2 linked regions of the Homo sapiens genome follow. The protein of the gene in region 1 purifies or fractionates together with the protein of each later gene. This does not show direct contact. Each region holds a gene or a part of one and is shown on either strand. Other genes may lie near its edges.

Region 1 (3,500 bases):
CGCCTCGGCCTCCCAAAGTGCTGGCATTACAGGCGTGAGCCACTGTGCCCGGCCGTCAGTTCGGTATTAGGAAAAGAATTTAAGAACTTTTAATAAATCAGCAAAAATATCATGCATTTAAAATGTTTCGGAAGAAATGGACAAATTCTTTTGATGAGGTGTCAAGAAAATAGTAGATTCCATTAAATAAACACTTTGATTAGAACTGTGAAAACAGGTTTGTGTGTAAGGCATTTCAAAAGTGAAAACTAGTCATCATATGATAACTAGGATCATGGAATTGTGGGCTATTTTTAAAAGTGTTACTGTTGCAATGATATAATTATTTCTAGTCTTAATTAAATTGTACTTAAAGTCACTTTAAATAACTTCTACTCTTTAGCCCTAGAAAAAGGATACAAATTACTTCCCAGGATATTTAAGCAACTTTCAGGATAAAGGTCAGAAATCTTTGCAAATTCATGAGAACAGAGGAAATGCTACCAGAAGATTGGAGCTGGACAAACATCCTACATTTCAAATACAGAAAAAATTGGGGCAAGTTCAGCTGGCATTGATTATTGGCAAAAGTTCTAGAGATTACTCAAGAAAGTGCTGAGTATTAGAAACCAACAGATTCAGTCAGAACAATGCAGGATACACTGTGCAAATTATTATTATTTTTTGAGACAGGGTCTCACTCTGTCGCCCGGACTGGAGTGCAGTGGCGCGATCTCGCTCACTGCAACCTCTCACTCCCAGGCTTGAGGGACTCTCCTGCCTCAGCCTCCCTAGTAGCTGGGATTAGAGGCGTGCGCCACCACGCCCAGCTAATTTTTCTATTTTTAGTAGAGATGAGGGCTCACCATGTTGGCCAGGCTGGTCTCAAACTCCTAATCTCAAATGATCCATCCACCTAGGCCTCCCAAAGTGCTGGGATTACAGGCGTGAGCCACTGCACCCAGCCTGTGCAAATCATTAAGCGCAATATTTGCAAGTCCATGGAGTCTTTGTTTTTTTGTTTTGTTTTGTTTTGTTTTAACTTTGTTGACTAAGATCTCAGAAGTATCTGAGAACTTGGGCTGCGCAGGGAATGCTGGTGTGGGAGAAGCAAGCCAACTGAGCTGAGCTGCGGCCCTGTTTGTCCTTAGCTCTCCAAAACTTGCTGTCTATGTCACTTGGAAGGAATTTGATTCTTTTCTGCAAGGCACTGACAATACCTTACAACAGAGCTGGGAGATAAAATGCAGAGCTTGTGAAAGTCATCAGAAAGTTGAACACAGATGGTCCCCGGCTTAAAACGGTTCAACTTGATGATTTTTTGACTTGATGATGGTGTGAACACGATACACATTCAGTAGAAACTGTATCGATAAGGGCTGCTTTATTCACCAGAAGTGAAAAACACGATGGTTGTGTGAGTATCTGAAGTACACAACCATTCTCTTTTTCACTTTCAGTACAGTATTCCGTAAGTCACACGAGATATTCAACACATTATAAAACAGACTTTGTGTGAGATGATTCTGCCCAACTGTGGGCTAATGTGAGTGTTCTCAGCACATCTGAGGTAGGCTGGGCTAAGCCAGCATATTCAGTAGGTTAGGTGTATTAAATGTATTTTCCACTTTCAATATTTCCAACTGATGAGGGGTTTATCTGGACACAAGACACAACACCATCCGAAGCAGAGGAGCATCTGTACCTGGTTCTTGTACAGAACACATGGCACACTCAACTGTGTGTTCACTGACTTAAAATCCATGATTGGCACCTGCTATTAGTCTGGCTGGTGGCTCACACCTATAATCCTAACACTTTGGGAGGCCGAGGCAGAAGGACAGCTTGAGGCCAGGAGTTCAACACCAGCCTGGGCAATATAGCAAGACCCCCCTCTCTACAAAAAAATAAAAATAAAAATGAGCCAGGTGTGGTGGTGCATGCCTGTAGTCCCAGCTACTCAGGAGGCTGAGGCAGAAAGATCACTTAAGCCTGGGAGGTGGAGGCTTCAGAGAGCTGTGATATCGTACCACTGGACTCCAGCCTGGGCAACAGAGCCAGACGCTGTCTAAAAAAAAAAAAAAAAAAAAAAAAAAAAAAAAAAAAAAAGCCTAGAGACTGACCTTGGGTTATTATTCTTAATCAAAGAAAATAATGTATATGAAATGTTTTATAAACTATAAAGGGCTGCACAAAAGAAACTGACATTAATGTTGTCATTATTTTGAAGGCATTGCAGATTCTGCGATGCAAATTCTGGTACCAATAACAAATACAAAGGCCAAGGCAAAAAATAAAAAGATCCTAACGGGAGAGATCTAGAAACTCAAAATTGTTAAGATGAAACCTAAGTCATGGTCATGCTACATGAGCCTAAAACTGAGAAAATCCTGATTTCATCCACCACTCCCAGGAAAACAACATTGGAGGGGTTGGTGATCATGGTCTGGAAGCAGAAGTATGTCATGTCTAGTTTAAGCCTAATGAATCAACTCTAGGTTGCAGTAGGGGAAGGACAGTATCCATCAATCCCCTCTTTGGGTTAGAACACACAGGGCCTGGCTGGGTTGGATTCTGGGTACCATGCTTAAGAGACACACATGCCAACCAGAGCGATAAGTATGGCAAATTTTTGCACGTATGGAATAGCTTAAGTACTGTAGATTTTTCAGCCAGGAAAGAAGCTATTGAAAACACATTTTATTTAAGAAATAATTTTTTAAAAAAAATTATTCTGAGGAGCAAGTGGCACAAATAGGCATGAGTTAACCTGAGTTTTATTTACCAAAGTGTGCCTTCCTGCAAGGAAAAGCAACTACGGGATGGACTAGCTGCCTTGTTAACAAAGCACTCCCTTTCCATCGATGGAAGTGTTCAAACTAGGATGGATAACTTCATGTTAGAGATATCATGCAGAAGGCGAGAGAGGCTGGTCAGCCCTAAGATCCCTTTTAACTACAATAACCTGGGATTCTAACTGGCTTGACAGTTTCACGTGTGTAGGTAGGTGCTAGGATACCAGCAGCCACATGAGAAAGAGGTCCAGAACTGTGCCTGGTAGCTCTTCTGTCTTCCTCTCCCTTTCTGACACCTAGGGACAGAATGGTGCATATATTGTAGGGCACACACACGCTAAAGGATACATACTAAATACAGGATACATGCTGAAGACAGCATGAGGCTTATTTGCAAGAGAAAGATCATGGAACAGAGCAGGAAAGAGGCACAAAAGGCAGCTTCTCAAACCCTGAGCTTTTATCCACTGAAAGAAGGCAAAGGCTCCTTCCACTTTCTGCTTCTACTTGGGATGTGGGCTGACAAGCACCTGACCCCTGGAACTCCTGCACTCACCATAGTGTACATCCCACATTAGTGCATCTGATACAGTATTCAACATACACAGCAGCACAGGAAAAGTCTGCCTTCCAACATGCCAAAATGTGCTTGAAAAGCTCTTTGAAGCATTTGTTATGTGCTTGAAACACACAGAACACTGGGAAGGCAGTCCTTTATTTAGATCT
Region 2 (3,500 bases), on another chromosome or scaffold:
ACGGGGCGGCTGTCCGGGCAGAGGGGCTCCTCACTTCCCAGTAGGGGCGGCCGGGCAGAGGCGCCCCTCACCTCCCAGACGGGGCGGCTGGCCGGGCGGGGGGCTGACCCCCCCACCTCCCTCCCCGACGGGGCGGCTGGCCGGGCGGGGGGCTGCCCCCCCCACCTCCCTCCCGGACGGGGCGGCTGTCCGGGCAGAGGGGCTCCTCACTTCCCAGTAGGGGCGGCCGGGCAGAGGCGCCCCTCACCTCCCAGACGGGGTGGCTGGCCAGGCGGGGGGCTGACCCCCCCACCTCCCTCCCGGACGGGGCGGCTGGCCGGGCGGGGGGCTGACCCCCCCCACCTCCCTCCCCGACGGGGCGGCTGGCCTGGCCGGGGCTGACCCCCACCTCTCTCCCGGACGGGGTGGCTGCCGGGCGGAGACGCTCCTCACTTCCCAGACGGGGTGGCTGCCGGGCGGAGGGGCTCCTCACTTCTCAGACGGGGCGGCCGGGCAGAGACGCTCCTCACCTCCCAGACGGGGCGGCGGGGCAGAGGTGCTCCCCACATCTCAGACGATGGGCGGCCGGGTAGAGACGCTCCTCACTTCCTAGATGGGATGGCGGCCGGGAAGAGGCGCTCCTCACTTCCTAGATGGGATGGCGGCCGGGCAGAGACGCTCCTCACTTTCCAGACTGGGCAGCCAGCAAAATTTTAACTTTTATATCTGTTTTACCACAATAAAAATACAAAGAAAAGTTGGAATTAATATTTGTTTTACCTATCTCATAAGGTCATTGTGAAGGGGAAATAAGATTAGGATGTTTGAGATGTCATTGGGATTATCTTTAAAAATCTGAAAAATGTTTAAGCAGACTCAAAAATAGGCCTTTGAGTAGCTCTTTTTTTTTTTTTTTTTTTTTTGTATGTCCCCTTATATGTTTTTTATGCAGCCAGAAGTTGGGTGAAACAATGATTTAAATAAACTAATATTTCAAACCTAGTCATATTTAGCAGCAGTTGCCATAAATTACTTTGCATAGTTGCTATGAAGTAAGTTGATGATTAAAATTAAGCTCAGAAATGCATATTTTTGAGTTTATACCTAAGTTGTTTTTCAGTTACAACTTTGTCTTATTCAATAACATAAAAATGAACATTTGTTAGCCTTTCATTCTAGTTTACGTATATAATTTTAAAAAATCTTACTAAACGTGATCCTGAAATTTCTTATAGGCAGTTTTCTGTTATCTTAATGAGAATATGTTTTCTTATAAGCACAAAAAAATTCAAGTACCTTTCGTGCCACTGTTGGGAGGAATTTTTACTATGAGAGACTTGAGCTCAGAGAACATACATATATAGTTTTCCTTTGGTGTGTGCATTATGATTTTGTTTAGGACATTAAAAATAGGCAGTGTAAACATAACAAATTTGCTAAGGAAGAGACCCGAACAAATTTTACTCTTGTTTATTGTTCTTTTTTAAATCCCCATCTAGATTTGGAGGTTGATATGTGGAAGAATAATTTGCCTTGATTTGAAAGATACTTTCTGCAGTAGTCTGCTTATTTATAATTTTAGGATATTTGAAAGAAGATATGGAAGCAGAAAATTTGCAGTAAGTTTTTATGTATTTTGTCTTTGCTACTTAGGCTGTAGAAAAAAATTTTGTTTAAATGGATTTTATTTTGTTAAACTTGGTGTTGTTATTTACAGTTATCTTTTTAATTACACTATTCTGTATCTGATTTGAGGCACATGGACATTAACCAAAGAAAATTTTAAAATGTAAGACATTAGCATAATAATAATAGTGATAATGATAATATGTAGTATTAGTTGTGAACACTAATACAAATTTTAATACTTTGACTTTAATAAAATTATAATTTATTTTGCTTAGTGGTTTGTGTTTTACTTGTTAAAAATATATCTTCAACATACTTAAAAATTATGGCTGTTAATACATTTGAGCAATATGGGTTTACCCCGCCCATTTTCTAAAGTCTATTTTAATAAAAACAAATAATTTCAAATATATATACACACATATGCATGTGTGTATATACACACACACACATACATATGAATACACACCTCTGAGCTGATTCTAGCTGAATAAATGTTAGTTTATTTTTAGGAGACTCATCTCTATCATTTTTCTGCTGTTTTATTTTGTAGTCCTTTTTGCTGGGTTCCTGGGTTTTGTCAGCCTTATTTGACTTTCTCCTCATTGAAGCTATGCAGTATTTCTTTGGCATCACTGCAGCTAGTAATTTGCCTTCTGGATTGTAAGTAGCACTTAAAGATTGACTTAATTTAGAACTACTTGAATCTGATTTAAAGTGTTATTATTATTATGTGAAAGTCAGTAAAATAATATTTTAAACTTCTAGATATAGTTAAATTGATTTTATATGTAAAAAGTCTAATCTATGCCTACATTTTTATTATGTTCTTGAAATAGAATCAATTTTATATTCTTTCTTTAAAATTTATTTTACTTTTTTTTTTTTTGAGACGGAGTCTCGCTCTGTCACCCAGGCTGGAGTGCATTGGCACGATCTCGGCTCACTACAACCTCCGCCTCCCGGGTTCAAGCGATTCTCCTGCCTCAGCCTCCCAAGTAGCTGGGACTACAGGCACGTGCCACCATGCCTGGCTAATTTTTGTATTTTTTAGTAGAGACAGGGTTTCACCATGTTGGCCAGGCTGGTCTTGAACTCCTGACCTCAGGTGATCCACCCGCCTCGGCCTCCCAAAGTGCTTGAGCCACTGTGTGAGCCACCTTGCCCAGGCACCTTCTTTTTTTAGCTTTGAAAGTTTGTGTTTTAGAGAATTTTAAGTGAATTTCCTATTCTGATCCTGATAGAATTAGTTTTGTGTGTTTTTATAGTGAAATTTGTCTTTGTAATTTTATGAACTAAACACAAAAATATAGTTTAATTAGATTAGGAAACAAAATTAATTTGTACGAAGTTAAGCTTCTGAAGAATAATTTTTTAAAAGCTGATAATGTTTAAACACTTCCATCAAACATAAAACAAAGCCGGTGTATAGGTTATAACTTTGTAGACAACCTGCCGTGGCCAACCCCACTCAGAATTTGTATGCTTTCATATTGCGTTGATCTTCTTTAAAAAAAACAAAAACCATGTATTAGTGTGTGAAATAACTAGAATCTAGGAGTAGAGTTGACAGAACGAGACTCCATCTCAAACAAACAAACAAAAAAACAGGCCGGGCGCGGTGGCTCATGCCACCTTTGGGAGGCCGAGGTGGGCGGATCACGAGGTCAGGAGTTCAAGACCAGCCTGGTCAATATGGTGAAACCCCATCTCTACTAGAAATACAAAAATTAGTTGGGCGTGGTGGCACGTAGTCCCAGCTGCTCAGGAGGCTGAGGCAGAAGAATCACTTGAACCCGGGAGGCAGAGGTTGCAGTGAGCGGAGATCGCTCCACTGCACTTCAGCCTGGGTGACAGAGTGAGACTCCGCCTCAAAAAACAAACAAAATACC

The links. The genes of interacting proteins can lie anywhere in the genome.
Region 2: the proteins of SLC22A23 (region 1) and UBAC2 purify together in Homo sapiens (affinity purification with mass spectrometry; one large-scale study listed by BioGRID and IntAct). This does not show direct contact.

The regions. Positions count from the first base shown.
Region 1 is NC_000006.12:3,450,551-3,454,050, forward strand, and holds part of SLC22A23 (solute carrier family 22 member 23), read right to left. Parts: intron 1-3,500.
Region 2 is NC_000013.11:99,242,354-99,245,853, forward strand, and holds part of UBAC2 (ubiquitin-associated domain-containing protein 2 isoform 1 precursor), read left to right. Parts: intron 1-1,478; coding exon 1,479-1,598; intron 1,599-2,161; coding exon 2,162-2,271; intron 2,272-3,500. UniProt on the Homo sapiens protein: Restricts trafficking of FAF2 from the endoplasmic reticulum to lipid droplets.